Regions from separate parts of the Homo sapiens genome. Here all the other regions are linked to region 1. Evidence: fine-mapped expression QTL. A gene starts in region 1. Each other region holds a variant in brackets. All regions are shown on one strand. Distances are between the middles of the regions. Region 1 holds the start of PLXDC1 (plexin domain containing 1). Region 2 overlaps PLXDC1 (plexin domain containing 1). Region 3 overlaps PLXDC1 (plexin domain containing 1). Region 4 overlaps PLXDC1 (plexin domain containing 1). Region 5 has its middle 6.5 kb from the start of LINC02079. Region 6 has its middle 33 kb from the start of LINC02079.

Region 1 (5,351 bases):
CAGCCTCCCAAAGTGTTAGGATCACAAGCATGAGCCACCGTGACTGGTGCAAGCCCCCATTTTATAGACGGGGAAACCTTCCTCAGAGAAAGGAGGAAGCTGTCAGGGTCACCAGTAGTTGGTATTGAGCCTGGCCTCCTGCAGGACTCCCAGGCCAGGATGCCAACTCTCGCTGCCTCTTCTTTATCTGTCATATGCACCTCTGGTTCCATCTGACCAGACTGTCAGTTCCCTGGGCCCCTGCTCTGCACCCCAAGGCCATTTTCCTGTCTGTCATCCTGGTCTCCCCTGCTGTCTGACTCTGTCTTTGGGCCACTCATCTCTCTGCTGCTGCTGTTCTAATGATAGATGAGGTTTCAAGGCTCTACCAAACAAGCCTGTCCATCAGGAGCGAGGGGAGATCTCAGCTACTTCCCAAGGCCCCCCACCAGCCCCACAAACCCAGAGCCTTGGGGAAGGATGCTAGCATCTCTTCAGGTCCTGCTCCCAGCTGCCCTTCCACTGGTCACAACAACTCCGCCATCAATCAGGTCAGGCTGCCCCTCCTTAGCAACTCTCCCCCAGAACGTCCTTCTCCTACATCTGGCCTCCCCAGACACCCGCTTCCTCCTCATAGGTCCTCCTGCCTGTGAAATCCCACCTGGCCTGTGAAAAGGGCACCGGACTGGGAGTCAACAGCTGCCGCCTCTGGCTTCTTACAGATTCCTTAAGTCTAACCTCTATCCCTCCTGCTGCAGAAAAAGTGCATTTCTCCTGGCTCAATCTCTGTCAAAGCCAAGAAGACAGGATAGCCTCTACTTAGAGAAGTGATTCAAGTCTCTGCCTGCCCCACTCTTCCTGGTCTCCTCAACCGTCTACTACCCCAACCCTACTCTGAAGGGGCCGCCCTCAGCCAGGCCCGGGTCTGGCCACTATCTCCCAGCCCATCCTTGTTACCTCCCAATTCCCCCTTCCCCAGCCCTCTCCGTGGTTCACACAATCCAGCCAAAGGTTCAGATCCTCCCCTCATAAACTCTGTTACACCCAGAGTTCAGAAGATCACACCAGGTTGAGGATTCAAAGGAGCCCAGAAATTATTCATAACATATCCAACTCTCTCCTGTTTACCTTGATTTTTTTAAAGTATCAGTTACCCATAAAGACCCTAACAAATATGAAAAGGAAAGGCAATTATAAAAGATCCTTCATTATTCCACGCACAAGAGTCAAAGATTTTGCCAACAGCCTCACTTTATAAATGCAAAAATAGGTCCAGAGAGAGAAAGTAACTTGTCTAAAGTCACACAGCAAGTGAGATGGCGGGACTAGAAGCCACGTCTCTGGCCACCCTCTGTGTGGTCTCCCTGAAAATTGGTGGTTCTCACCAGCAGCTTCTCGGTTCGTCAGCTCCACTGCCCTCTGCCCATACTTCCCACTGTCAGCCTCCTTCCCCTCCCACCCCCAACATACTCTTCTTCTCAATAGGGACCCAGGTCTGTCTCAGCTACATGCTGGGACCATTAAAGTCAAGAACATTGCCACTGACACTGTGCCTGGTGCCAGCACACTCCTGAGACACAGCAGGTCAACCACAGCACTCACCTCAACAGCGCCTCCCTCACCCCACCTGAGGGGCACCCATGCCAATGATGCACAGGTATCTATCTTCTTAATCATCTCTGCTGAGGGGCCAGGCTGCAAATTACCCATCTCCCCAACCCCAGAGAAAGTCTAGGTGCTTAGGGGAGAACAGAGACTATGAAAATTATACCATGAGGGATTCCAGGTAGATCTCAGAAAGGACTTCCAGGTGGGAGAGATGAGTTTGGAGAACTGGTAGGGGGGAAGAGGAGTGTGCAGAATGGGACGCCTCCCTCCACCCCCTACCCCAGTGCCCCATCTAGAGCCAGAGTAGCTGAAAGCCAAAGGCTGCCAGGGCAAATGGGAGCAGGTGTGAGGAGGGGGACTCTTGAGGCTGGGGGTGCAGAAGCAGCAAGTTGCTTCTTCCTGGGCCCACTGCCTCTCTACTGACACCAAATAGGCAAGGGAAGGTGACCGAATGGCTGCTGCCTTCCCAGGCAGAGACGCTGTGTCCCCACCATCCCCCTGGCTGCTCCCACCTATCCCTAGCCTGGATCAGCTTTGGGGTCGGGGGTGTGGCAGAGAAGAGGAAAAGAAGGCATGGCTGGGGCAGGGGCCTCCCCAGGCTCCCATCTCATCAGAATTCAGCCTTGCCTGGGGTGATCAGGGGTCCTGATGACTCTCCCGCTGTCCCCTTTCAGAGCCCATGGCCACATAGAGCCCCCTCTCCTAAGGTCCCTCCAGTATCCTTCCAGGAGAGAAGGAGAGGTCCGGGCATCGGTGTCTCCACCGTCACTCACACACCCTATGTGTTTGGGAAAGTGGGGTCCCTATCCACCTGCCCACAGCCCACAGCTCTCCTGGCCTCCTGCGGACAATGCCCCCCTCGCGGACATCGCCAGGCCGTCCACACCTGCCCATGCCCACACCTGACTGCCCGTCCCTCCCCGCCCCCGGCCCACCCGGGCCGGCTCCCGCCAGTCCTACCTGCTCCGGGCTGGGGGCTCAGCGCCCGGGCAGCCTCCCTGAGCACCAGCACCAGGAGCCAGAGCTCGCCTCGCATGGTGGGTGCCCGGACCTGCCCCCGGCCTGCTTGCTGCCCCGGTCCTGACGAGGGAGGGGGCCCTGGCTCAGGCTGCGGCCGCGCGGTCCCCGGGGCTGGCGGAGGGGCGGGCGGCGAGGAGACGGCGGAGCGCGGGGCCGGGCGAGCCGGCAGGAGCGGCGAGAGCGCGAGCGGAGCTGGAGGCTGCGGCCTCCGGGAGCAGGCGGGGAGCTGGGGGGGCCGCTGGGTCGGTGGGGGTGGGGGGGAGCTGGGGCAGGGGGCGGGGCGGGGGGCGCGGCGTCGTTGGGGGCTCTCCCGGCGCCTGCCCTCAGCCCTAACGGAGCGCTCCCCTAGAGCTCTGCAGCCGCTCCCAAGGCAAGGGGTGCAGAGTAGGGGACAGGGCGGGAGCCCCTCGGGCTGAGAGAACCCCTAGAAGCATCAGCCGCCCCGCGCTCCTCACTGAGCTCCTGGCTCCCTTTCCCTCCTCCGTTCCGCCGGGAAAGCTGCAGAGAGAAGGCCCGAGGACTGGACCCCTGGAAGGGACAGGCGCCCCATCCCTGGGTCACGGGCCCCTGACTGTTCCCCGCCCCCAGCTCCTCCAAGCTCTGCGACTTCCTGAGCTGTTCTTCGGAATTCTGTGCGTCTCTGATGCTTTGTCCTCCAGCCCCCACCCCCAGAAATCTCCCCCTGCAGCAAAGACCCCCAGCTTTTCTCCCCAAGAGGGGCCTGAATCCCACCCCCCTTCCATGACTCCACCTTATCCCTCCACCCCCCATTTCCAGCACCGATTTGCCCCCCAAGCCTAGCAGACGTGAGGGTGGAGGGGGCCTGGCTACCCCTTACTCTGCAACAGTCTGGACCCCTCCCCACGAGTAGGTAACCCAGGCCTCCTGCCTCTCTGGGGCCTCCAGGCCTACTCAGGGCCAGACCCAATCAATCTTCAGAGCCAGCCCCAGACGAGGAAATGGCTCACCCCACCTGTCACCACCTTCTGACAGGCTCTGGGGATAGATAATCTTTTTATTTTTTCTTCCAGGACAGAATAAAAATACCCGCAATGTAGGATATTTAATAGACGGCAAGGAATCAGGTCAGGACACGAAGATGCCTCTTCCCTCCCCTGACCTACTTCGTTCTTGTGACGGCAAGGAGCTGGGGCGCTGGAGAGTGGGAGACGGGGTGAGGGGGCATCCTGGCTTCTAGTGGGCTGGGGCCTAGGGACTAGAAAACCGCGGAGAGGAAGGGTGCGAACGCTGAGCGCCATTGGAGAAATTTTCCAGGAGGAGGGATATGGGCGGGGACAGGAGAAGGTACACTGTGGGCTGGAAGAGACGGATTCCGTGGCACTGAGGTTAAAAAAAAAAAAAAGAAAAGAAAAGAAAAAAAAACACCTAAGAAAGGAAACAACTAAAGGCTCTCTAATCTCTTAGAACGCCGGTTCCTCCTTCCGCCGGGCCCAGAGTCCCAGAGACTACCTCCTCCAGCCCTAAACCCAATGTCCCCTTACCGTGGAACAAGGCAAGGCCGGTCTGTAAATTCTTCTTGATGTCTAATTTAAATCCCAACTTGGCGGACTCTCAAACAGAATCAGATAGGCAGCTACCTCCAGCTGCAGCTACTTGCTGCCCTCAAGTGGCCACGTGACGAGCCACAACCCTCTTGTCCTGCGGGTTTCCTCTTTCCCCAGCCTGCCCACCCCCTGTCTCCGACCTCCTGCCTTCCTCGAGGTCAAGGTGAGAAGTCTCGGGACGGATTCCAGCTCCAGCCCCGGCGTCTTTGCACATTCCTCCATCTGGGGTACCTCGTGGTCTGTCTTACAAGAAGAGCTCAGGCTGAAACATAAACTTGTAAATAGTAGAAGCAAATGTGTAAATTTTAACGTAAGCCTCTAGAACTTGAGATCGTAATCACCTGCAGGGTGTGTGTGTGTGTGTGTGTGTGTGTGTGTGTGTGTGTGTGTGTGTATTTTGTTTGTTTTTTGAGACAGGTTCTCGCACGTTGCCTAGGCTGGAGTGCAGTGCTGCGATCATAGCTCACTGCAGCTTCCAACTCCTGGACTCAAGCGATGGGGAGCGTATATGAAAACACAGATTTCTGGACTCCACCCTCAAGTTTCTAATTCATTAGGTCTGGGATGAGGCCCGAGCGTACCCAGGTAATGCTGCTGGTCCCAGGACCACATTTTGAGAGCCACTGCTGTTGAATCCCCAGTTCCTTTCAGTCCCTCACTGCTCCTCGTCTGCCAGTAGGAGTAAAAGCAAACAGCTTAGGAAAAATCGACACCCAGGACAAAAACAGTATCTCGAAAAGGCCAAAGAGGGGGCACCCGGATTTGAACCGGGGACCTCTTGATCTGCAGTCAAATGCTCTACCACTGAGCTATACCCCCTCTGCCGGCAAACCGACCGCACGTAGTCGTTTAGTGGTATTGCTGCGCAGGCGCTGTGTGGCGTTCCCGAAGGGAAGTGGAAGTGGGGTAAGACGTTTACAAGAGATGGAAAAAATACAACTCCCAGAAGAATTACTCACTTGGAAGCAGGGGTTGTTCCCTGAAGCTCTGAGCTGAAGATCCCCACTGGCAGTATAAGAAAATATATTCCTGGGGTGTGGAAGGAGAAGTCTCTCGAAATATTTCACTTCGGGGGCGTCCCACTCTCCTGCCCTGCAGAAGACCCCTTGCCACGTCTCGGAGCTTCTTTCTCCCTCCCACATGCTCACGCGGCTTCTCCCGACCTGTCTTCCCCAGCCC
Region 2 (5,351 bases), 36 kb before region 1:
CAACTGTGTTACCCAAAACGATATGTTCAAGTGTGAACCTCTGGTACCTATGAATGTGACTTTATTTGGAAATAGTCTTTGCAGATGAAACAAGTCAAGATGAAGGCAGACCGGATTAGGGTGGGCCCTAAATCCAATGACCGGTGTCTTTATGTAAACGAAGAGGGAGATGTGGATACAGAGTCGCAGAGGAGACACAGGGAGGATCCCTGTCACAATGAAGGCAGAGATTAGAGTGACGCTGTTTACAAACCAAGGACACCAAGGATTTCCAGGAGATCCAGAAGCTAGGACAAGACAAGGAAGGCTCCTTTCCCAGGGCCTTGAGAGGGAGCGTGGCCCTGCTGACACCTTAATTTCAGACTTCTGGCCTCCAGAACTGCAAGTGAATAAATTTCTGTTGTTTTCAGCTACCAAAATTGTGGTAATTTGTTCTGGCAGCCCTAGGAAATGAATATCTGTGCCACAGGTGTGTGTTACTGTGGCCCAGTTGGGACAACCTGAAATTGTTTTCCCTGTTCCACATCATCCCCTTGCTTAGGCCATTCTGTGGCTCCCCAGTTGCACTCAGAACAAAGGTTACGCCCCTTCCGCCATTCCCTTCTCTTCTTTACTAATAGAAAATTGATTTTGGATTGAGCACAGTGGTTCATGCCTGTAATCCTAGCACTTTGAGAGGACGAGGCTGGAGGATCACTTGAGGCCAGGAGTTCAAGACCAGCCTGGGCAACATAGTGAGACCCTGTCTCTACAAAAAATACAATAAAATAAAACAATTCACTGGGTATGGTGGTGCATGCCTGTAGTCCCAGCAACTCAGGAGGCTGAGGCAGGAGGATCCCTTAAGCCCAGGAGGTCGAGGCTGCAGGGAGCTGTGATTGAGCCACTGCACTCAGCCTGAGTGACACAGTGAGACTCTGTCTCAAAAAAAAAAAAAGATTGATTCTGTAGCAACCAGCAATGATGTAGCCATCTAATAAACCTCATTCCCTGGATGTCTTAAGGATTACCATGTGACACAGGCTGGCTCATGACATCAGCTGAAGGTTCTAGTGGAACCTTCTGAAAGAGATCAAATTTGACTGCTTGTCCCTCTTATCTTTGCCCTTCTTCTTCCTGCCTGGAATGCAGACATGATGGCTGGAGTTCCAACAGCCATCTTGTGAGTATAAGGACAAGAGCCACACCCTAAGGATGGTGAAGTGGACAACTAGATGGAGACTTGGTCCCTGATGACATGCTAGAGGGCTGCTTCTTAAGTCCCTGGGTTTAGCTCTCTGTTAAACGGAAACACAAATCCTTCCCCACGTGTGGTGGTCTGGCCCCAACTCAGCACCTCCTCCTCTCCCCTGCTCTCTTGTTCTGGGAATCACCACACAGTTGTCTGCCTCAGGACCTTGGTGCCGCCTGTGCCTCAAAATTTCTTCCCTTCCCTGTTCAGGAGCTGACCCTTCCTCACCTATCCAGCCTCAGCTCAGGAGTCACTTCCTCAAGAAAGCCTCTCTGATTCCCTGTTGCATTCCCATCACACCCTGTGCTTCTTTCTCCTGGTGTTTTGCACACTTGTGACAATTTACTTGGATTTTATACACATCTTCATGTCTGCCTTTCCTGTAAGATCGTAAGACCCCAAGAGTAAGGTCAGCCTTTATTTATCGTGTTTAAGCACAGAGTATGTGTTCAATGGAGGATTTGTTGAGCAAAGAATGACCACAAATTATAGCTGCCTGTTTTACAGGTACCACTACATATTCTGAAGTCCAGGATAGGATCATTTTACCAAACAAAGCAGGACAGCTGCAGATGCTAAACAGGTGCTCTCAGGTAAGTCTCAGAGTCAACTGAATACAGCTTCCACCTGGGAACCTGAGCGGGCCAGTGTTTAAGACGGTTGCTTTGAGGCTCGGAGAAAGGTCTGGTTTCAATCAGCCTGCTTCCTGGGCCCCGCACAGCGAGAGCTTTCCCCAAACCTCCGGGCGTCTGAAATGAGTGCCCGGGACAGAAGCCACGCTCTGCAGTTGTGAAGCCCAAACAGATGCTGACGTGTCTCTTGCCGCCTCAGCTAAGACTGCAAAGCGTGAGCTTCCTGGGAATGCATCTTCCTGGCCCGTTGCTCGGAGTTCTCTGCTTCACAGCAAAGACAAGCAGTCTGATCCAAACTAGTGCTGTTCTGCAGAGAAACCAGGCCCTGTGTCACGTGCCTCAGCTCTGACACCTGGATGATCCCTGGACTCATTCTTGGAGTTCCCGATGACCCCTGCAATGGCACCTCTTAACTGACAGAAAACTTCCATCTATTCTGACTCAAGGAAAGTCAGAAATGAAACGAGCTGCTGCCTCTAACTCCTAAGCTGATTCTCTCCAATGAGTCAGCAGATCCCAGGGAAGGCAAGAGCCTCGAAGCCTAACGATGCCCTACTCAGGCCAGCGAGGGTGAGGCCAAGCTCTGCTTCAGGCCTCAGAAGTGCCAAGTACAGCTGGCCTGCCAGGGGGAGGACTGGCTCAAGGGCAATGCCATGCAGAATCTGCTGCAGGTCCCAAACAGGCCCAACAGACTGCCCTCCTGGCACACCTGACTTTTATTACTCCAGGACAGTGAAGCCAGGAGCCATATCTACTCAGCTCTGGCTGAGGGTGGCCACACAGTGATGGGTGAGGCCAAATTGCACCCTGGAGGGAGGGGGCGACTTGCAGGGGGATCACTCCTGGGCAGAGCCAAGCACAAAGCCTGCAGGGGAGCATTTGGGAGCGTGGGAGGAAGGAGAAGGGAAGCTGGCATTTGCTGAGTGGTGATGGGAGAGTGCTGGGCATTTCATATTTGTTACTGCAGGGCAACCCTAGGAGGTGAGCACTAATATTAGTCCCATTTTCTCAGTGGGGAAACTGAGACTAGAAATCATGTAACTAGGCCAGGCATGGTGGCTCATGCCT[G/A]TAATCCCAGCACTTTGGGAGGCTGAGACAGGGCGGATCACCTGATGTCCGGAGTTCAAGACCAGCCTGGCCAACATGGTGAAACCCATCTCTACTAAAAATACAAAAATTAGCTGGGTGTGGTGGCGCATGCCTGTAATCCCAGCTACTGGGGAGGCTGAGGCAGTATATTCAATTGCTTGAATCCAGGAGTGGAGGTTGCTGTGAGCCGAGATTGCGCCACTGCACTCCAGCCTGGGTGACACAGTGAGACTCCGTCTCAAAAAAACAAAAAATAAAAAGAAATAATGTAACTGTATGAAACCAGGTCAGTTCCACTCAAAGACAGTGACCTTTCCTCTATCCACTGTCTCTGAGATCTTTAAGCAACAGCTCTCCGGGAAGGTGACTTAGGCTACCTACCAGTCATTGGTTAAACTCTCAATCAGAAGGACCACTGTCTGGAGGCTGGAGCTCAGGGATGGTGGCACATTCATCTCCGCCCCCAGCACCTCCCTAGCGCAGGGGTTGGCACCTGGCATCTGGTGGGTGTTCAGCATCTGCTTGCCAAATGAGCTGAATCACAAGGATTCTGCAGCCAATGGTGTCAAGACTGTGCTGAGAATGTGCAGTGTGGCTCTGACAAGGACAGCATCCTCCCCCATCTCCAGTGGCAGGTGACACAAAAGCCACTTGTGGAGGAACCAGCTGCCTCCTCTGGGAATCCAAGCCCACAGACAGCATTCCCAAACCTGGGACATCCTGGACACAGGAAGGTGTCTCTGGATTCCTCAATTTCTTCTCTGAGGAAGTAAAGCCAACAAGGCAGATACCTTCGGGGGCAAGGAAGAGAAACCCAGCTTCAACACGGAGGACATGTGTTAGACCAAGCGTCTGAGAGCCTGGCAGCAGGCATGGAACATGGATGATCCTCGTGTCATCAGGACATTGTCCTAAGTGTGACTGCCTCCTGGTCCAAAGAGGGCTGCCTATAGCCACTGAGGCAGCATGCTTCCTTGTCGGGTTCAAAAGGAGAAACCTCGCACCAAGAGTGGAACACAAGATCTTCCCTTCAGTCTGATGTGGCCCCCGATTATTACAAGGGCCAGGGCGTGCCAGATTGGTTAAACCAGTCTACTTCCCCCAGGAACTGGGGATCATGGCTCCGCTAGGAATGGGGAATGGAAGCTGGGTGAGCAAAGGCCTGACATCAGGGTTGACGGGGAATGTGGCTCAATGACCAAGACCAAGCTCTTTCAGTCTTTCTTCTCTGCCACTTTCAGTGTGGGCTTCATTGTAAGGCTAGGCATCTTGTAGTGACGGGATGGCAGACAGTGGCAACTAGCCCTGGCTCATGGAAGCAAGACAGGCACAGCACACCTCTCCCCGACCACTGAATGAACACGTGTGCTTCAAGATGGCAGGGTCAACCTGGGTCCCCTGCCACCTCTGGACTAGGAAGCCCTAGATGCTAAACAGCTTCCACCTAAACCAAACACCAGCTGGGGGGTAGGATTATCATGGAACCCAAGATCCCATTCCTATTGTACAAGGCTGTAAGGTAAAATATATGTTGAAAAGTCAACCGCAATGTCCACTTGCCATCTGAATCCAACCAATGAACCAGTACTCTCAAAAGACAAGAAGCACTTTGGGAGGCTGAGGCAGAAACATCGCTTGAATCCAGGAGTTCAAGACCAGCTTGGGCAACATAGTGAGACCCTCCCCCCAAGTCTACAAAAAAAAAAATGCAAAAATTAGCTGGGCATGGTGGCATGCACCTGTAGTCCCAGCTACTTGTGAGGCTGGGGCAGGAGGATTGCCTGATCCCAAGGGATCAAAGCTGCAGTAAGCCATGATCATGCCACTGCATTCCAGCCTGGGCAACAGAGCAAGACATTGTCACAAAACAAAACCAAGAGACATGCCTTTTACTTTCTGGAAGCAGAGCTGAGTAAAGGGTTTGATTGGCCAGCATCCTCCAATCTGTCCACATGCCCAGGGAGGTGCAACAGTTCTGCCAACCACTCAGGCCTTGTGGAATGAAAAAGAAGAGACTTCAGCTGGGGCAGGGCTGCTCCATTGCCTGTATTGATTGTCTCCATCCAGTTCTTTATGAGGCCAGAGTTTACCCAGGTTCCTCAGGGCTGAGCATCAGTGATGCAATGAAAGCTATTGCCACCTACCCGCGGCGTTCTAGAGCCAGTCCTTTTAGTCTAGAATTCCTTCCCTCCCTCCCTCCCTCCCTCCCTTCCTTCCTTCCTTCCTTCCTTCCTCTCTCTCTCTCAATCTCTTCCTTCCTTCCTCTCAATCTCTTCCTTCCTTTCTCTTTCTTTCTTTCTCTCTCTGTCTGTCTGTCTCTCTCTCTTTTCTTTTCTTCTTTTTTGAGATGGAGTTTCGTTCTTGTCGCCCAGGCTGGAGTGCAATGGTGAGATCTGGGC
Region 3 (5,351 bases), 43 kb before region 1:
CCCAGTGGGACCCCACCCAAATTCCAAGTCCTCTCCACACCACCTCCAAGCACATTTTCTTCTTTCCTCTGTCTCGGTGAATGGCACTCCATGCAGGCCGGAAACCCGGGACATACCCTTTTCCCTTCCCTTTCTTTCATTTCTTCCCTTCCCCATCTAATGCATCTCCGAATTCTGTTGCTTAACCTGCTAAGTGGCTCTCAAATCTGTCTGTTTTCCATTTCCCCTCATCCTACTCTAAGCTGCTGTCACCCTTCTCCTAAATTACTTCCCAGTATTCCCTCTAAGCCCCCAACAACCTGTTCTCCACTCTGAAGCCAGAGTGACTTTTCTCAAGGGCAAATCTGTGGTTCCCTTGCCCTGTCCTGCCCCTCACTCTCTCCCTTCCAACCATGCTGCCTTCTTCTATTTTTTTTTTAATAGAGGTGTGTGTCTCACTATGTTCTCCAGACTGGTCTTGAACTTCTGGGTTAAAGCAATCTTCCCGCCTCAGTCTCCCAAAGCGCTGGGGTTATGAGCCACCACCCTGGCTCATCATGCTGCCTTCTTTTTTCTTTTTTCTTTTTCTTTCTTTTTTTTTTTTTTTGAGACAGATTCTCACTCTGTTGCCCAGGCTGGAGTGCAGTGGCACGATCTCAGCTCACTGCAACCTCCAACTCCTGGGTTCAAGCGATTCTCCTGCCTCAGCCTCCTGAGTAGCTGAGATTACAGGTGCCTGCCACCACGTCCGGCTAAATTTTTTGTATTTTTAGTAGAGATGGGGTTTCATCATGTTGGCCAGGCTGGTCTCGAACTCCTGAGCTCTGATGATCCACCCACCTCAGCCTCCCAAAGTGCTGGGTTTGCAGGTGTGAGCCACCGCACCTGGCCCATGCTGCCTTCTTTCAGTGCTTTGTGCCAGCCGTGCTCTGTCCTGCCTCAGGACTTTTGCATGTGCTGTGTGCTGTTGTCTCTCCTAGAACATACTTCACTCTCCTCTTTGCTTCCTGAACTCGTATTTATCCTTCAGATTTCAACTCTTTTCCTCAGCAAAGCCTCCCCTGGCCTCTGCCAAGGTTAAGAGGTCTGTGAAAGGCTCAGCTAGCACCAGGCACCTCTACTTGGGAGCGCTTGTCACAGTGGTGATTCTACATTTGTCCCTGTAATTATTGTCCACCTCCGCAACCAGACTTACTGCTCCAAAAGGGTAGGACCCGCAAACATCTTGTTAACTGCTGTATTACCAGCAGCAAGCCCCATGCCTGGCACATTGCAAATTCTCTAAATATTTGCTGAATGAAGAAAGGCTCCAAGACCCAGCTGTCTCTGCAGCTGGGCCCACTCACCTCTTTATAGGCAAAGACAATGCGGCCGTCATGGTGCAGAGCTGCCTGGAAGGTGAAACTGCCCTTGTCTTCCCAGCCTTGGAGATAAACGTGGTCCCACTGAACCACAAAGACTGTCCCTGGGGAGAAGAACAGAGACCCGGCTGGACGGGAGATCATGCAAGGAGCAGGGCCCTACAGAAATGCCAGTCGGAGGGCAGCGGCCACAGGTTGGGTCCCTTCGGGATGATGGGGAAGTTTGCAAAGGTAAGGAGGCAGGAGCTGGGCAGCTCACTAAAGCAGCGCGGCTTCCAAGCAGCAGAGGAGCCAGAAGATCCTGCTTCAGCCCCAGATACTGTACTTGATCATCTCTTTCCCTTTCCTTCTTGTCTATTCTGACTCCTTGAGATAAAAGAAGGAGGAATGTCTGTTCTCCTGGATTCAGACGGGGCTCAAGGGACATCCTGGTGAATGTAAGTAACAATAAAGGCCCCTAACATTTATTTTACCTCGACTAAGAGCCAAGCACTGTCGTTTTGTTATCTCATCAGATTCTTCTGGGTAGCAGGCATTTTTGCCCCTATCTGACAGGTCAGGAAACTGAGCAGAGAAAGGTAGGTGGCTGCTTTGCCGTGGGACTGTGGGACCCTTGCCCTCTCTAGGCCCTGTGCTCCTCTAAAGGACTGGACAAGGGATCCCTGGAGCTGGGTGACTTAAATTCTGAGATCCAGTCTCACCATTGTCAAAGTAAACAACTGTGGAGTTGTCGGAGTAGCCAGGGTTGAAGTTGGCCATCAGGGGCGCCACATACTGAGTAGCTGTGAGCATCCGATGGATCACGTCCCCCATGAAGATGAAGCCTAGGGTGGGAGAGGTGCAGAGGAGTCACCAGAAATGGCCCAGAGGGGCCGCTTTGGGGGCCTTTTCCCCAAGGGCAAGAAGGGCAGCGCAGGCAGAGCTGGAAGTGAGCCTGAGACCTCTGTCGCCCATCCCCATCTGGCGGGCTCTGGGTCTGGTGTGTATGGAGCCAAAGGACCCCAGATAGGAGAAGGTCCTCCCTGTCCCTTCAGCAGGGCACAGACTATAGGGCGAGGGGGCAGGAAGAGGAGAGGACTCACAGCTTTCCCCATCCCTGGGGAAGTGGGATGTGGAACTGAAGTGCAGGGATTAAAGACAGGTGCCTCCTATCAACAGGGAGCCTGGCCCCAGGAGCCCAAGCTCTCAGTGGAGTCTCCCTCTCCCTCTTATTCAGCAACTCCGGGACACAGGGCTGTCCACACTGACTCGTGCTGGCCCGAGGAGACACACACGTGCAGGCACATGAGCAGGTCAGCTAATGCAAGGGAGATGCTCTGACGTCCACTGACCCCCCTCCTGAGAATCAGACTCCTATTAGAGCCAAATGTGCCTTCCTCCCATTTCATATAAC[C/A]CTGTCTCCAGTGAGCCACCCCTGGGAGGGCCCCTGAGTTCGGGCTGAGGTCTCCAGACTCTCCCCGGGGCCCCACGACGTGGCCTTACCTCCAGTTGCTATGGTGATCTGCCGCAGAGGATGCCCGTAGAAAGGGAAATCAAAGGACAAGACCACTCTCTGCAGGGGATGGGAGAAAGTCAGCACGGGCCAAGCTGCAGGCCAGGGGCCTGGGCACCCACACTGCCTCATGCTTGTTTGGACAGAGTGGGGAGCAGGCATGCCCAGGGCCACTGCTGGGCACCCCAACTCTGGCAAAGTCCCATGGGAACCCCTGGAAGGTACCTCCCAGGTCACAGACCTCGGGCCACAGCCATGCCCACTGACCAGGCAGGGTGGTTTGGCCCCCGGCCTCCCAGCACAGGGAAGCATGGCTGGCGACTGGGGCACTCACCGAAGCCTGCCGGTGGGTGTTGGAGAGTATTGTGTGGATCTTCACTTGGCTCCGGTTGGCCTCGGCCACATCTACCCACAGTTCCCGGCTGTGGGGCTCGCTGGGGCCATAGAGACGGGACACATAATAGCTGTGGTTGTCCTCCTGCCGGCACCCAAGATAAAGCCCACAGGAGGTGTGAGTAGTCAGCATGCCAGGACTGACTCTCCGCCCTTCCCCACTCAGATTTCTGGGTACAGGAAGTCACCACCCTCCCAGGGTGCTGGACCTGTGGCCCCAAGGGCTGATTTAGGCCTAGGACCCCCTGGACTCCCCCTTGGCCCCAGACAGCTCACTAGCTGGCCCCTAGTGGTGCCCCAACAGGCCTGGCCACAGCCAAATCCACGCCTGCTGCCCTCATGCTCAGCCCTCCTGTTCCCAGACAAGCCAGGAGGCCGGCAGCCCCTGCATCCCTTCAGACCAGGACCAAGGCTGAGCTTGGCATGGGGCATAAGGGAGGAACAGACAGGATGGCCTCAAACCGGGCCCTTGTTTTCAGGGAGCTCCCAGGCCGAGGGAGAGTCATAGTCCCTGCCCTGGAAGAGTACCCTATTTAATGGAAAAGGAAAATCTGGGCTGGACGCGGTGGCTCGCGCCTGTAATCCCAGCACTTTGGGAGGCCGAGGCGGGCGGATCACGGGAGGTCAGGAGTTCGAGACCAGCCTGGACAAAACAGCGAAACCTCGTCTTTACTAAATATACAAAAATTAGTGTGGCCTGGTGGCACACGCCTGTAATCCCAGCTACTTGGGAGGCTGAGGCACAAGAATCACTTGAACTCGGGAGCCGAGATCGCGCCACTGCACTCCAGCCTGGGCGACAGAGCGAGACTCTGTCTCAAAAGAAGGAGAAAAATCTGGATCTTAGAAGGCACCAGTCTAAAGGAGGAGGCTGCCTCTTGGTCCTGGGGAGTTTCCAGTCTGGAATGGGACTTATATAAACAGAGGAGCAGACACAGACCCTCAAGCAGAGCTAATACAGAACCCAGAGTCCACACAGCATCACCAGGGTGGTGGGAAGGGGAGAGAAGCAGCAAGGATTCCTTCGAGGCATATCTTTGAGCCTTTGCTGTGTGCCTGATGGAGATGAAATAAAGAAGTTAGAATGCTATGGGCTGGGGGTTCATTCTGCAAAGGCTCTCCTGCAGAGGAGCACTTGGGCCAGGGTTCAAAGGAGGCCAGGGAAATGGTTGGCAGAAAGACTTAAGAGCCAGAGAGGGGCGATGTGGAAGCCCTTCCTGGAGCCGACCCAAGAGCACCAGCCGCAGGAGGAATGGAGGCAGGGCAGGCAGGTTCCCTTGGCAGCCACCGCCACAGAGGTGGGGCCGCTGACCTGTGAGGAGCCCTGGGTCATTAATCAGGCTGCCCAGCGGTGGTGGCGGCAGACACAGCAGAGTAAACGACATTCTCCCTGCCAGGCTGCCAGCTGCCCAGCCGGCCCTTGCCCTGGGCGCAGCGTGAGCAGGGACAAGGGGTTCCTGCACTCCTCACCTGCCAGAAGGCACTCTGCTCTTACGATAAGCGACACAATCTGGAGACCTGGGGTTGGGGCAGGCTGGGGGACGATGAGCGGAAGAAGCATGGTTGGTTGGTGTCGGGGGCTATTCCCTCTGCCACTGCCCTCCCTTCCTGCCTCCAGACAGCCCATGCCTCCACCCATCCTCAGCACGGCAGTCAAACCAATCAAAAACACCTTGCTCTGTTCACAGGCTATCCAGGGCTCCCTGAAGACACTGTCCTCGAGACGAAAACCAAAGCTCTTAGGCTGGCATGCAAGATCCCACCATCAGCCAGCCCCAGCCTCTCTCTAGCTCCTTCTCTCTCCTCTCACCACCTTGTGCATCCTTGTGTGCCCACCCCCCAGACCAGACTCCCCTGACAGCCTCAAGCCACCAATGGTCACTCGTGCCACTGCCCACGCTGGTCCTCCTGTCTGGAATGGCCACCCTCGCCTTCTCCCCTTGACAGATTCCTGGTCATTCAACACTCGGCTTAAACTCTGCCTTCTTTTATTGTTGAGACAGAGTCTCGTTCTGTCGCCCAAGCTGGAGTGCCATGGCATGGCCTCGGCTCACTGCAACCTCCGTCTCCCGGGTTCAAGCGATTCTCGTGCCTTAGCCTCCCAAGTAGCTGGGATTACAGGCACA
Region 4 (4,707 bases), 59 kb before region 1:
GCTCTGTCACCCAGGCTGGAGTGCAGTGGGATGATCTCGGCTCACTGCAACCTCTGCCTCCCAGGTTCAAGCAATTCTCCTGCCTCAGCCTCCCGAGTAGCTGGGATTACAGGTGCCCACCACCACACCTGGCTAATATTTTGTATTTTTGGTAGAGAGGGGGTTTCACCATATTGGCCAGGCTGGTCCCAAACTCCTGACCTCAGGTGATATGCCTGCCTGAGACCCCCAAAATGCTGGGATTACAGGTGTGAGCCACCATGCCTGGCCTGTATCTCATTATTTATTTATCCTTAACGTTGGAATTAGTCCCTCCTACTTAACCCAGGACTGCGCCCCCGTGGGTCTGGCACCAAAGCATGCTCTCTTCCCAACACAATGCCCTGCTGCAGGACACTTCAGCCCCTGAAACATTCAAGACCTTGGAATGTCATTCCATGCAGTGAAAAGAAGACTACTCTGGCATTGGTGTCAATAAAGATTCCCTGGAGCTGAGCAGCATCTACATCCCTGAGGCCTGTCTGAAATGCTGGTGCCCCCCACTCCCATGCCACTAGGAGGGTGCACCTGCTACCCACAGGCCAGATGCTGCTCCAGGCCGAGTGGAAAGGGGAAAGCAGATGGGGGCACTGATGAGAGCATGGAGGAAAAGAAGCTCGGCCCCCGGAGGGTGACCACACAAGGAGAGGAGGCTTAGGGTTGCCGCAGCTGGGCAGACAGGCTCTGCCCTTACCGCCTGTGTGACCTTGGACAAGGGACTCAGTGAGCCGCATCCACACATGGGGCTGGTGATGCCATGCAAATGGTGTTGTCCTGAGAATTAAGGGAGACACTCAACGCACAAGGACCCCAGGAGCCCTCGAAGCATGTGAGCCCCTTTTCTCTCTGCCCCGACTGCTTTTTTGCTGTTCTTCTCATGGCTGAGACTCTAGGGCATTTTCAGCCTCTTCTAACCCCTCAAAGTCCACCTTAAGCAATGTTTATAAACTTGAACATGAGGAGGAAGGATGGCACGCATTGCTTTCTCTTTCCTGTCCTTACTCTGTCTTTCTCCCTCTGTCTCTCTCTCTCTAGGACGGCATATTTCTTGTCAGCAAGTCTGATGGGTCCCCCAGTTCCCCGCTGCTGTGGAGAGAGAGGAGGCCCACAGAGGCGGCCTGACCGCGGTACTGTGCTGGCACTCCAGACGCCCTGTTCCCACCCGTCATCCTGCAGGCCTCTCCTCTCTTCTGCTGCCCCCACAGTCCAGGCTGCCTGCTTCTCCTGCTGTGGATGCCACTGCCCCCACCCTAGCTTCCCCTTGTTTCTTCCTGATTACTGTTTCTTGCTTTTGCCACCACTGGAGAATGAGGTCATGGGAGCAGTGGGGGACGGCAGTGCTCAGGTGGTGAATGGACTGGGGACCCTGGAGACTGAGGTGAATTTCCCACGCCCCCTCTGAGGGCTGCTCAGAGAGTACTTATCTTGGAATCCATCTCCCCGCAACACACACCCACTGACTCCCATGGGGAGAGGCAGTGGAGAGGACTTTAGCCTTGGTCTTCCTTTCCTACCAGGAGGATGACAGCTCCAGCCCTGCAGCTCCTTCCTTCGCCCGACTCCTGCACTGGAGCCGGATGGTTTAGAATGAGATCCAGGCCTCCTCCCACGTCTCCCTCCCTTCCTTCCATCCCAGGCAGATCAGGGAACTTGCTCCTCCTCAGGAAAGCAGCTGGACAGAGTGGGTGGGATGAGGAGTCCAGGTGGTCCCCAAGGCGAGCACTGCGCAGGTGTGGGCTTTATGAGAGAGGAGATGAGCTACAGCTGCAGAGACTCAGACATATCAGGTTGAGAGAGCAAGGGAGTTAAGAAGTCAAGTTGGCTGTACACCTGTAATCTCAGCATTTTGGGAGGCCGAGGTAGGTGGATCACTTGAGGTCAGGAGTTTGCAACCAGTCTGGCCAACATGGTGAAACCCCGTCTCTACTAAAAATTTAAAAAATTAGCCAGGCGTGGTGGTGAGCACCTGTAATCCCAGCTACTTGGGAGGCTAAGGCGGGAGAATTGCTTGAACCCGGGAGGTGGAGGCTGCAGTGAGCTGAGACTGCACCACTGCACTCCAGCCTGGGCAACAGAGTGAGACTCTATCTCAAAAAAAAAAAAAAAAAAAAAAAATCAAGTTGTCTTGCCATTCATTCATAAGTGGGGAAACTGAGGTTCAGACAGATTAACCCATAGACAGATACAACTTTGTATAGCACTTTACTTTTTCATTTATTTATTTATTTAGAGACAGGGTCTCGCTCTGTCACCCAGGCTGGAGTGTAATGGCGCAATCACAGTTCACTGCAGCCTTGACCTCCCAGGCTCAGTAATCCTGCCTCAGCCTCCCAAGTAGCTGGTATTACAGGCACACCCCATCATGCCTGGCTAATTTTTGTATTTTTAGTAGAGATGGGTCTCCCTGTACTACCCAGGCTGGTCTCCAACTCCCGGGCTCAAGCAATCTGCCTGCCTCAGCCTCCCAAAGCGCTGAGGTTCTAGACATGAGCCACCACACAGGCCACATCTCTTTACAATTTACCAAGCCTAGCCATTAAGTAGACGGAAAACATCTACTTAAACGAGAAAACTACAAGAGCACAGCGCCACCATGCAGCACATTTGTTGACTCCTTCAGCATGTCGGTGCAGACACCTGCTCTGTGCAGGGGCTGTGCTG[A/G]GTGCAGAGCACTCTGTTAGCTCGCAGCCTTGCAGGTTCCCTGGAGCTGCACCATCTCATTTCCCCTTACAACTTCCTGAGGTGCACAGACAGACATCGCTGCTCTCCCCACTTTACAAAGGAGAAAAGTGAGATCGGAGAGGGGACGTTATTTGCCCAAAGCCACACAGTCTTTGTTTTAAAATCAGAGGCTAGACTTTTAAAAAACCTCAGGGCTGGAAGCCACTGTGGCTCCAGAAAGTCACCAAAGTTGTGAGTGCAGATAAATATTTAACAACTGCCTGGGGGCTGGGGTGCAGGTAGGGGCAGAGGAGTCCTGAATTGCCGTTGTTGCCAATTTCTGTGGTGTAAATACTTCCACGGTAGCTGACTTCCAGCTACCCTTTCAAAAAAGTTACTGAACATGGAGTTAGGAAGAGACATGTTCAGTTGCCTCTCACCCAGCTGCATACATGATCTCCAGCACACCCCTGCTGAGAGCTTCCTGATTTGTGTTTCTAAAAGAGTCAAAGGGAAACATTTACATTTCTTTCTTTTTTGTTTTGTTTTGTTTTGTTCGAGACAGGGTCTCACTCTGTTGCCAGGCTGGAGTGCCGTGGTGCAATCACGGCTCACTGCAGCCTTGGCTTCGTGGGCTCAAGTGATTCTCCCACTTCAGTCCCTGCCCCCAGCTCCACCTCCCCCACCAAAGGCTCATGCCCTGGTAATTTTTTTTTATTCTTTGGTAGAGACAGGGTCTCCCTATGTTGCCCAGGCTGGTCCCAAACTCCTGGCCTCAAGCAATCCTCCCGCCTCCAATTCCCAAAGTGCTGGGGTTACAGGCGCGAGCCACTGCGTCAGGCCACATCTCTTTACAATTTACCGAGCCCAGTTGTTTATTTAAAAATAAAAACATTTATTTAAAAATTACGGGCACAGTGGCTCATGCCTGTAATCCCAGCACTTTGGGAGGTCAAAGTGGGCGGGTCACCTGAAGTCAGGAGTTTGAGACCAGCCTGGCCAACATGGTGAAACCTCATCTCTATAAAAATACAAAAATTAGCCAGGCATGGTGGCACGCGCCTGTAATCCCAGCTACCCGGGTGGCTGAGGTAGGGGAATCGCTGGAACCCGGGAGGCAGAGGCTGCAGTGAGCCGAAATTGCACTATTGCACTCCGGCCTGGGCGACAGAGAAAGACTCCGTCTTAAAATATATATATATATATATAAAATTAAGCCAAAATCCAAAAGATGGAATGACTGTGTGTTTGTCTCCTAAAGAACCCTAAGTCTGAGAGAGGAGGCCCCGTGGCAAGCCTCGTAAATATCAGGCAGTAACTGCCGGGTGTCTACAGAGTCACTGTGGCTCTAAGAGGAGGGAACCCTCCATGGAAAGCTGAGGTGGCGAGGGGTTCACAGAGCCCCGCACACGCATGTGCACACCCCAGCCCTCCAAGACACACACACACCTGCACATGAGCACATACTCATATGCACACACATATGCAACCCTTTGACACAAGAAAGACCCTTTGCCAAGCCCGAGTGGGATCTGACAGAGATTGGAGGATGGGCACCTTTTTGTAATTCACATGCCCAGAGGTGGCACCAAGGCCACCTGTGCTGCAGGTGCCCCTGAGTGATGCCAATGGCCATGAGAAGGTGGCCTGGGCTCTGAGTAAGCCTGGGGGCCTGGGAATATCTAGATGAGGATGGAAAGTTTGAAGCAGACTTTCACACACCATCCCCACTCATTACTCCCAGGGGCCATCTCTCCTTCCCCTTCAGCACCAAAACGCAATGGGATCAAAAATAAACATGAAACTCCAAGTCTCCCATGTCCTGACTTCCAGGGTGCCTGAGGCCATAGGTTCTAGAGTCCAATGTCAACCTTTCTTGCTTCAACTGCCTCATACTTCAAGACTCAGCTCAAATGACGTCCCCTCCTTGAAGACTTCCCCCACTCTCAGGCAAAGTGACTGCCCCCCGACCCGGCCCCACTCTGAGTCTACAACTCCCTGAGCAAT
Region 5 (5,351 bases), 120 kb before region 1:
CACCCAGTGTCACATTTCAACCTTTAGACCTGGGACTTACCGTCACTCCAAAATCCACTATGGAGGCTGAGTATTCTACAACCCCAAGGAAGACTACAGCTCCTCCAAAACACCCTGAGGTGATGCTTCCACCTCCTGACCAGGTTCAGGCTCAGCACACAAACCTAACAGGTCATAGTTCAACCTTTGCACCTGGAACTTACCACAACTCCGCAACCATGTTTTTTTCCTCCAACCATGAAGAACTCAACTCAGCTTCCAGAGACACCTACAGAGGTTGCAGCTCAACCTCCAGCTCATTATGAGGTGACAATTCCAACACCAGGTCAGGATCAAGCTCAGCATTCAACACTGTCCAGTGTCACAGTTCAGCCTTTGGGCCTGGGGCTTACCATCACTCCAGAATCCATGACAGAGGTTGAACTTTCTCCAACCATTCAGGAGACCCCAACTTAGCCTCCTAAGGAAGTTGTACCCCAACCTCCAGCATATCAAGGGGTAACAGTTCCAACACCAGGTCAGGATCAAGCTCAGCATCCAATGTCACCCAGCGTTACAGCTCAACCTTTGGACCTGGGACTTACCATCACTCCAGAACCCACTACAGAGGTTGAACATTCTACACCCCTGAAGAAGATTCCTCCCAAGCACCCTAAAGTGACACTTCCACATCCAGACCAGGTTCAGACTCTCCATTCGAACCTGACTCAAGTCACAGTTCAACCTTTGGATCTGGAACTTACCTTAACTCCAGAATCCACTATGGAGGTTGAACCTTTTCCAACCATGCAGAAGACCCCAACTCAGCCTCCAGAGCTACGTAAGGAGGTTGTAGCTCAACCTCCTGTGTATTATGAGACGTCCATGCCAACACGAGGCCAGGATCAAGCTCAGCATCCAACATCACCCAGAGTCACAGTTCAACCTTTGGATCTGGGGCTTACCATCACTCCAGAATCCATTACAAAGGTTGAACCGTCTACAGCCCTGATGACTACAGCTCCTCCTCCAGAGCACCTTGAGGTGACACTTCCACCGCCAGACAAGGGTCAGGCTCAGCATTCAAACCTGACTCAAGTCACAGTTCAACCTCTGGACCTGGAGCTTACCATAACTATAGAACCTACTATAGATGTTAAACCGTCTCCAACCACGGAGGAGACCTCAACTCAGTCTCCAGACCTGGGGCTTGCCATCACTCCAGAACCCACTACAGAGATTGGATATTCTACAGCCCTGGAGAAGACTATAGCTCCACGTCCAGACCAGGTTCAGACTCAGCATCGAAACCTGACTGAAGTCACAGGTCCACCTACTGAACTAGAACCTACTCAGGATTCACTGGTGCAGTCTGAAAATTACGCCCAAAATAAGGCTTTAACTGCACCAGAGGAACAGAAGGCCTCCACAAGCACCAACATATGTGATCTCTGTACCTGCGGAGATGAGACGCTGTCGTGTATCGATCTCAGCCCAAAGCAGAGGCTCCGCTGAGTGCCTGTGCCAGAGCCCAACACCTACAATGGCACCTTCACCATCTTGTAAGAATCACCTTTCCTCCATTGTCTTCTGTGTCCTGCCTCACATGGCAGCCTTTTCCTGGAGGCCTTCCTGGGCCTTCTTTATCTCCCCAAGCTATACTGACAACTAACTTTCTGCTTTCACCTCTGCCGGTAATCTCTTCTTTCTCGTCGTTCTCCTTTACTATTAGGCCCCTTCTCCAGTCTTTTACTTGTGATTGCTCTTACTTGTTTACTTGTCCATTTTCATTTAGCCCCATCGCATCATTGCTTAACCGCTGCTCTCCTCCCATTTTCGCTTCACCCTCTTCACAGCAGCCTGTCCCTCTCCCCATCTCAGTGATGATGCTCTAAATGGTTAAGAGTTGATTCTAGAGCCAGGCTGCCTGGGTTTGAACCCAGGGCTGTCATTTATTAGCTTGATGACCCTGAGCAAGTTATTCTGCTCTGTGACTTAATTTCCTCATCTTTAAACTGGGGATTATGCTAGTTACCATTTCATAGGATTGTTGTGAAATTTAGGTGAGTGAATATATGAAACACTTCATCAGTGCCTAGCATATGCAGGAGGGTTGGCTGTGAACATGATTACTCAGTCTTTGAGTTATGTCCAGAACTCATCTTTGTCCCTGGCTTTCTATATGTAGCACTCATTTTGTGTCCAACCCAGAGCCAAGTATGCTACTGTCCCTAGAACACGAAAATGGTAGGAGGGAAGAAAGAGAATAGGCATAAAAAGGGAGGTATATATAATTAAGTACTAAAAGATAATGCAGACCATCGGTGCTAGAATTCACCAAAATCTGTGATCTTGAGATTTGGAGGTCAGAGAAAGCTACATGGATAAGCTAAAACTTTACGTGGGGGTTAAAAAGTAGCTATAATTTGTTAAATAGGGGAAAAAATGGGAGTACAATCTAGGCAAAGGCATGGCTACAGATATGATGAGAATTTAGTAGACCAATCTGGCTGCAAAGAATCAGGCGAGGGAGCGATGAAGAAATGATTATGTAAAACCTTGATTATCAGGTATGGGAGTTTAAAAGTTACACAGTGAGATATGGGAAGCC[A/G]TTGAAAGTTTCCAACCAAGAGAGATTAAATGATTAAAACAGGGAGGATTATTTTATTTTTTGCATAATGTTCAAGTGTAGACATGCAAAGGATTATTTTAGAATCCATATGTAGAATGCCCTAGAGGGGAAAGCTTAATTCAGGGAGACAAAATAGAAAGGTCTAGCAAAATCTAGGAGTAAAGTGTGAAGGGGCTAAATCAGATTGGTTGTGATAGGAGTGAAAAGAAAAAAGCCTAGGATGTTTCAACTGAGGGCACTGGGCCAAAGCTTTGGTGTTATCCGGCATAGGGTTTCTTTCTTCTTATTTGTTGATAATAATAAGCTTTTGCCCATTTTTCTGTTGAGGTATTTACCATTTTTGATTTGTAGAAGGAGTTAGTTTAGACACATAAGTGATTTTGGATAAAGTCCTTACATTCAAAGTAATTAACCGGCATTATCTGTCTAAGAGATGGGATGGATAGGAAGTTAAGCTTCCGGGAGATGCCTCATTTGTGCCAGTGGTCCCACATTATTTCTTGATTAATTGTGCAAACTGGGAAGCTGATAGCTCTGGAAATGAGAAAGCAGGTGTTATTCTCTGTTTCTGAATATCCCCCACAAGGTTGCCATGATTCTTTTACTTATCCTGTTCATTCTTTTCCTACCTATTCAAGGATATGAACTGTGTTTCTTCACAGAAATTTCCAAGGAAACTATATTTCTTACATTGGTGAAGATGTATGGAAAGCATACAGTTGGACTGAGAAACTGTGAGTATATTCTCTCCAAATATGACAAAAAACTAACTGCATTGTAAGATCCTTCTTGGTACAGAATTTTGAGGTCGGTACCTCTGAGAAAACATGTTTCCCTTCCATACCCCAAATGAACCTCTGTTGATTGCAATCGTGTGGTAATTTTAAAATTAAATTTGGTAGGCTCTCTTTAAAATAAGAGTCAATTTAAATTTATTTTTATTATGCAAATAATACATGGGTATTTTTTTTTCTTTTTCTTTTTTCTTTTTTTTTTTTTCGGAGACAGGATCTTACTCTGTTCCCCAGGCTGGAATGCAGTGGTGCAATCACTACTCACTGCAGCCTCCACCTCCCAGGCTCAAGTGATCCTCCCATCTCAGCCTCCCAAGTAGCTGGAACCACAGGTGCATGCCACCACTCCCACCTAATTTTTTATTTTTTGTAGAGACAGGGTCTCCCTATGTTGCTTAGGCTGGTCTCAAACTCCTGGGCTCAAGTGATCCTCCCACCTTGGTCTCCCAAAGTGCTGGGATTACAGGCATGAACCACCACTCCCAGCCCATGATTATATTCTTAATGTATAAAAATGAAATAACAGCTATAACAAAAATCTTCCTTGTGTCCTACTCCCTCATCCCTGAGGTAACACTCTGTGTTTAGTATATAACCTTCCAGACTTTTTCCCATTTGCCTACATACATATTTACATAAAGCAAAATAGATTTGTTGTGTGGTTTTAAAAATCTTTTTTCTTTACATAAATGGTAACATCTTGCAACTTGATTCTTTCACTTCATGATGTGTCTTAGATTTCCTTCCTTCCCAGTACTTAGAGGGTTACCCCATTCATTTAAACTCCTGCATAATATTCCATAGTATGGATGTATCATAGTTTATTTAATAGTTCCCCCATTGATGGATGTTTAGATTATGTCTAGTTTTCTTGTTACATGCATTGCTGCAATGAAATCCATGCTTCTTTGTGAACATGGGCAAGTATTTCTGTAGAATAGATATCTAGAAATGGAATTGTTGGAGTGAAGCCTATGTAGATATGAAATTTTAATTGCCGTCAAAAATGTTGTGCCTACTTACACTATCGTCAGCAGAGTATGACAGCATTCATTTCCCCACACCTTTTCACCACTGGCTATTCTCCAACTTTTTGTTGATGTTATGGATGAATAAAAGGTATCCCATCTAAATTTGAATTTTTCTGATTACTTATGAATTTAATGAAATGTTTTTATGTGTTTATTGAACATTTGTGTTTCTTCTCTGAGTTTTCTGTCCTTTGTTCATGATCTCGTTGAATTTTTAAAATCATTTTCACATTGATTTATAGAAGGAATTCGACACATAAATGATTTTGGAAAAAATGCTCACATTCAAAGTAACTGGCTTTTTTTTTTTTTTTTTTTTTTAATTGAGACAGAGTCTCGCTCTGCCGCCCAGGCTGGAGTGCAATGGCGCCATCTTGGCTCACTGCAACTGCCACTGCCCGGGTTCAAGCGATTCTCATGCCTCAGCCTCCCGGGTAGCTGGGACTACAGGTGCGCACCACCATGCCCCGCTAATTTTTTTGTATTTTTAGAGATGGGGTTTCGCCTTGTTGGCCGGGCTGGTCTTGAACTCCTGACCTGAGGTGATCCGCCCACCTCGGCCTCCCAAAGTGCTGGGATTATAGACGTTAGCCGCCACCCCCGGGCAGTAACTGGCATTTTTTACAACAGTTTGTGTGTCACATTATTAGTTCAACTTACATAGACAAGTTATACACGAGCTCTAAATTAAAAATAAAACACATGACAATCATAGTCATCTAAGAAGAGGAATTATGACCACTTTAAAGTAGTTTCCCTCACCCTTAGTGTGATATCTTATTGGTAAGAAAAAAAAATGCTAGAACCAGACAATCCTGTTTTCTAGCTCTAGAGGAGAGATGGGATTCTGCGGCTTGTGTTCCAGATGGAGTCTCCTGATAACAAGAAGGTGTGGGAGATGGCTAGTAAGGGAGT
Region 6 (5,351 bases), 91 kb before region 1:
GGCGTGAGATTTCATGCGCTTATTTGGCGTAGGACCACCCCCACAGCTTTCACTGTTCACAGCATTTTCCCAGTTTGACCTTTTGTATTCAGTCCGGGTCTTCCCAAATGCTGCAGTGGCCCATTCTGGTTTCTATGGCGTCATTAAGTTTTATTCAGCAATGGCTGTCCACGGAGCCCAAAAGGCATGCCACCGGAAGCAGCTTTTTCAGACATCTCCTGTCAAGGTGGCTCCAAATATGGAATTCCTAGCTCCGCTGAAATGAAGTGCTGAATTCAATAATAGATTAGCATTTGTCCAGCACTCTGGTTTACAGAATATTTTCAGATGCATTGCCACACTAATCTTCCAGTTCTCTGGTTTTTTTAGATTAAGAAACTCAAACTCAGGGTGGTTAATTGACTTGCTTAAGGTTCCTGACAAGAATTATGGAAGCTTAAGGTTGAACTCAAACCTACTGATGCTAAACCCCATGTCATTTTATGCTGTCCCTTTTTAAGAAATCTCAGCTTGGGCAACATAGTGAGACCCCATCTCTACAGAAAAAATTTAAAGATCAGGCTGGGCACGGTGGCTCATGCCTGTAATCCCAGCAGTTTGGGAGACTGAGTCGGACGGGTCACTTGAGACCAGGAGTTCGAGAGCAGCCTTGGCAATATGGCAAAACTCTATCTGTACTAAAAATACAAAAACATACAGTTCCCTATTGCGCTGTGCCTCAGTGGCCTCCTGTGTAGGGTAGAGGTAGCAACAGCACCCACCCCATAGATGACGATACAAGTAAATCTCCTAAAATGTGCTTGGAACATAGGAAACACCCAGTAAATGTGAGCTGCCGGCAGCACCACCAGCAGTACCATCCCAGAGTCCAAAAGTCAGTAGACCAGGACCTTTGGTTTTAAGTAATGTTTACCTCTGCCTAATTTTGTTAGTTGTGGCTCCTTCTTCACGGCTAAAGAGGGCTAAGTGCTTGTCTACAGAGGCAGAGGGAAGAGTGAGCACAGCTGGGAGGATTCTGCTCAGTCTGTAATGGGCCTGGGGGAGAAGAGCCCCAGGGAACAGAGAGGGGTGTCAGCAGCTGTAGAGAGGGGATGCTCCATCCGGGCGTGGTGGCTCACACCTATAATCCCAACACTTTGGGAGGCTGAGATGGGAGGATTGCTTGAGCCCAGGAGTTCAAGATCAGCCTAGGCAGAAAAACAAGACCCCATCTCTACAAAAAATAAAATAATTAGCCAGGCATGATGGTTCCCACCTGTAGTCCCAGCTACTTGGAAGGCGGAGGTGGGAGGATCACTTTAGCCCAGGAATTCAAGGCTGCAGTGAGCCATGATTGCATCGCTGAACTGAATCCTGGACAACAGACTGAGACCCTGTCTCTAAAAAAAAAAGAAAGAAAAAAAAAGAGAGAGAAAAGGGAGGCTCTGAGAACGGGAAGGTAGGCCCTACAGGAGGCTGCCCTTTTGGCCTTGAGGAGGGGCTCTTGGAATTGCTTAATGTTCCTTAGGAGAGCAGAGTCAGTGCACAGGTTTGCTGAGAGCAGCATCTTCATCTCTTAATTAAAAATGGGATCTAAGGCCGGGCACAATGGCTCATGCCTGTAATCCCAGCACTTTGGGAGGCTGAGGTGGTCGTATCACTTGAGGCCAGGAGTTCAAGACCAGCCTGGCCAACCTGGAGAAACCCTGTCTCTACTACAAATACAAAAATTGACTGGGTGCAGTGGCTCATGCCTGTAATCCCAGCACTTTGGAAGGCCAAGTAGGGCGGATCACCTGAGGTCGGGAGTTCGAGACCAGCCTGACCAACGTGGAGAAACCCCATCTCTACTAAAAATACAAAATTAGCTGGGCGTGGTGGTGCATGTCTATAATCCCCGCTACTCGGGATGGTGAGGCAGGAGAATCGCTTGAACCCGGGAGGTGGAGGTTGCAGTGAGCCGAGGTCACGCCACTGCACTCCAGCCTGAGCAACAAGAGCGAAACTCCATCTCAAACACACACACACACACACACACAAATACACACAAATTAGCCGTGCATGGTGGCACACACCTGTGGTCCCAGCTACTCAGGAGGCTGAGGCAGGAGAATCGCTTGAACCCAGGAGGCAAAGGCTGCAGTGAGCCGAGATCATGCTACGGCACTCCAGTCTGGGCAACAGAGCAAGACCCTGTCTCAAAACACAAAGAAACAAAACCACACAAACTTTGAGGGGGAGAGACTGAAAAAGGGGAAAGACAAGCTGGAAGGGAAGGTTCTAACCCAAGACTCTGGGAAGGTATGATGAAATTTTATTGGCCCATATTCAGGTGATTTTTTTTTCAGTGCTTTTAGCTTTGTGGAAAACTGTAGGCATAATTTAGCTATCTCTAGGGACCAAATGTAAAAATGTTTTATGAACATCAGAAAAATCATTCCCCACAAAATTTCTCTCTGGATTTCACAGTTGAAGTAAAGATTCTACCCCTCTTCCTTCCTCCCTGCACCTCTGGCCCCATCTTGGCGAAGGAAGTAATCCATTGTCCTCCATCCAAGAAGATAAATTAGATGGAGGCATCGCCTGGTGCTCTGTAAGGCTTGTGAGGAGTACTTCTAATTCTTCATGTGGGAGGGTCGCTAGTGTGAGCAGCGGGATGAGAAGGAGGCAGCAACAACTAGGACATTCTCAAGCTCCTGGGACTGTGCAAATAAATAGATGGTAAGCTCACAGTTT[C/T]GTGAGCCAAGAGCGAGGATCTGAAGTCATCACTAGGCATCTCTTCGAGGATCTCTACAGGCCTGGAGCAGTCTGTCTGTCATAATCCATAATCTGCTTCTATATTAAACTGTGGCCATGTGGTTCTGGCAACACCCTGAGGTACACAGAGAACAACCTCAGATGGGAATCCAAAAATCTGCACTTGGGGTTTTTCTCTACTTACTAGCTGTGTGACCTTGTGCAAGTCACTTAATGGTGCCTGGCACACAGGCGTTTAATGAATGTGGATCAAGTGAATAAATAAGTAAGCCACCTCCCTGAGCCTCAGTTTCCTCATCTGGGAAAGGAAAAACAGTGCTTCTCCAACAGGCTGCGATCATGTAGGTAGAATTGCTTCCTAAATGGTGCATCTCAAACTTTCATGCCCTTCACAGGAGTCACCTAAGGAGCTGCTCAAATGCAGATTCGGACTCAGTAGTTCTGGGGTTGGGGGGCCTGAGTGCTGCATTTCCAGCTAACCCCAGGGAATGCTAATGCTGCCTGGCTGGACCACACTTTATTATTTTATTTATTTATTTATTTATTTTTGTAGAGACAAGGTCTCGCTGTGTTGCTCATGCTGGTTTTGAACTCCTGGCCTCAAGCCATCCTCCCATCTTGGCCTCCCAGAGAGCAGGATTACAGGTATGAGCCACTGTACCTGGCCTGGACCACACTTTATTATACAGATTTACATTTTTTTAAAGCAGGGTCTTGCTCTGTCCCCCAGGCTAGAGGGCAGTAGCGTGATCATGGCTCAATGAAGCTTGGAACTCCTGGGCCCAAGCCTCCCGAGTAGTTCGGACCACAGGGCATGTACCACTGTGCCCAGCTAATTTTTTTTGTTTTGTTTTTGTTTTTGTTTTTGTTTTGTTTTGAGAGAAAATGTCTCCCTGTGTTTCCCAGGCTGGTCTCAAACTCCTGGGCTCAAATAGTCCTCCCACCTCAGCTTCCCAAAGTGGTGGGATTACAGGCATGAGCCACTGTGCCTGGCCCTGGACCAGACTTTAACTAGCAAGGTTCTATATTCTAAAGTGCTTTCCAGGTGCTTGAAATCATTATTTCTTCAGCCAATGGGGTGGGAGGGCTGTGCCAAGGGTAGAGGGGACCAAACATGGCGAGGGAGCTGGGGACACCCACACATGGGGATAAAGGAAAATCTTGAGTTCCTTCAGGGAAATCCTAGCTAGCCCTGAGAAGTAAATCAGCAACTTGGTAAGCAGGAAGGTAATAGTAGTCTAAAACAATAGCTGAGGAAGTTAGAGCCAGGAGATGTTTGGTTCCCCTCTCTACAAACTAAAGATAACATCTTAACGTATGTCCCTGAGTTGTTTTTCAGAAGCCCAGACCCCTCCAAAAGGGATCCGCTGGCATGTAGACCTCAGATAAACGGGTGCTGAGGACTGACTCTGACTATAGTTCGTTGTTCTAAATTTCTTCCTGAGGGACCTGGAGGAGGCCATTGCCCATGAGCCAGAGCTAACATTCTTTTCTGCTGATCCCACATGTCTAGACAAAGCTTCGCCTCCTGAACCAATCGCAAATCAGAAAATCTTTGAACCCACCTTATGACTTGTGGGTCCTGCTTTGAGACGTCCTGCCTTTTTAGGTCAAACCAACGTATAGCTTCCATATATTGATTTATGATTTTACCTGTAACATCTGCTTTCCTGAAATTTACCCCTGCCTTTTAAAATCCTTACCTGTGGCTGGGCACAGCGGCTCATGCCTATAATCCTAGCACTTCGGGAGGCCGAGGTGGGCAGATCACTTGAGGCCAGGAGTTTGAGACCAGCCTGGTCAACATAGTGAAACCCCGTCTCTACTAAAAATACAAAAATTAGCTGCACGTGATGGTGCATGCCTGTAGTCCCAGCTACTCAGGAAGCTGAGGCAGGAGAATCACTTGAACCCAGGAGGCAGAGGTTGCAGTGAGCTGAGATCGCACCACTGCACTCCAGCCTGGGCAACAGAGTGAGTGAGACTCTCTCAAAAAAAAAAAAAACAACAAAAAAACCTTACCTGCAAGCCATCAAGAGTTCATATCTTAAGCATAAGCCACCCAATTCTCCTTGCTTGGAGTCCTGCAAACAAATGCCTTCCTTTCTCTATTGCTGCAAAGTCTCAGTGTGGACATCTGGTGTTATTGCGCCAGGTGAGAAGACCTGGTTTGGTTCTATAACATTCCAATGTGCCCAGGATTGAGGAGATTCCTGGGATGCAGGACTTTGTGTGTTAGAACCAGGAGAGTCCTGGATAGAACAATTTGGTCACCCTATCGGGATAATGAAAGAGAAAGGCATGCTTTGGTCTAAGTTGCTGTGTGACCTGAAAAAGGACCAGGCAGCTGATTGCTCAGGTCCCACTTTAGACCAGTTAGTCTAGTACCTCCTATTTCACAGGGGTGGAAGCCAGCCCAGAGAAGTCCAGTGACTTGTCCACATCACCCAGCTACTCAGGGGCAGGGCTGAGGCCAAGCTCCCACCTTCCCACTCCCCGTCCAGCTCAGCACCTTCTCCATCAGTTCACGTTGTCTTCTCTTAACACATTCCTCTTGATTTGGCGAACACAGCATGTTTATTTATAAATTGGCTTGTTTGGAGCCTGAAATGTGG

The links. PIP is the estimated chance that this variant, and not a neighbour inherited with it, causes the effect.
Region 2: its variant is fine-mapped to the expression of PLXDC1 in whole blood (TOPMed, PIP above 0.99).
Region 3: its variant is fine-mapped to the expression of PLXDC1 in whole blood (TOPMed, PIP above 0.99).
Region 4: its variant is fine-mapped to the expression of PLXDC1 in whole blood (INTERVAL, PIP above 0.99).
Region 5: its variant is fine-mapped to the expression of PLXDC1 in nasal epithelium (TOPMed, PIP 0.97).
Region 6: its variant is fine-mapped to the expression of PLXDC1 in whole blood (TOPMed, PIP above 0.99).

The regions. Positions count from the first base shown.
Region 1 is chr17:39,148,815-39,154,165 of GRCh38, forward strand. PLXDC1 (plexin domain containing 1) reads right to left here and starts at 2,823. Exons shown (of 14, transcript NM_020405.5): 1 at 2,548-2,823. The coding sequence starts at 2,623. It overlaps TRC-GCA2-3 (tRNA-Cys (anticodon GCA) 2-3), which reads right to left and starts at 4,991; the gene lies at 4,920-4,991. RefSeq lists enhancers at 4,327-4,476, 4,849-5,351.
Region 2 is chr17:39,112,926-39,118,276 of GRCh38, forward strand. All of the region lies in intron 2 of PLXDC1 (plexin domain containing 1), which reads right to left. It overlaps LOC124903995 (a long non-coding RNA gene), which reads left to right. Exons shown (of 2, transcript XR_007065744.1): 2 at 76-419. Among named protein-coding and RNA genes, the nearest start is that of PLXDC1, 36 kb to the right of the region's middle. The variant G/A (reference allele first, on the strand shown) is at 2,932.
Region 3 is chr17:39,106,082-39,111,432 of GRCh38, forward strand. PLXDC1 (plexin domain containing 1) reads right to left here. Exons shown (of 14, transcript NM_020405.5): 3 at 3,167-3,310; 4 at 2,823-2,892; 5 at 2,042-2,164; 6 at 1,326-1,444. LOC124903995 (a long non-coding RNA gene) reads left to right here and starts at 5,174. Exons shown (of 2, transcript XR_007065744.1): 1 at 5,174-5,351. RefSeq lists a silencer at 2,829-3,017. The variant C/A (reference allele first, on the strand shown) is at 2,734.
Region 4 is chr17:39,089,829-39,094,535 of GRCh38, forward strand. The region is part of intron 7 of PLXDC1 (plexin domain containing 1); the gene reads right to left. It also overlaps the pseudogene RDM1P5. Among named protein-coding and RNA genes, the nearest start is that of PLXDC1, 59 kb to the right of the region's middle. RefSeq lists an enhancer at 3,176-3,245. The variant A/G (reference allele first, on the strand shown) is at 2,701.
Region 5 is chr17:39,030,897-39,036,247 of GRCh38, forward strand. It overlaps the pseudogene LRRC37A11P. Among named protein-coding and RNA genes, the nearest start is that of LINC02079, 6.5 kb to the left of the region's middle. The variant A/G (reference allele first, on the strand shown) is at 2,591.
Region 6 is chr17:39,057,808-39,063,158 of GRCh38, forward strand. It overlaps the pseudogene RDM1P5. Among named protein-coding and RNA genes, the nearest start is that of LINC02079, 33 kb to the left of the region's middle. The variant C/T (reference allele first, on the strand shown) is at 2,716.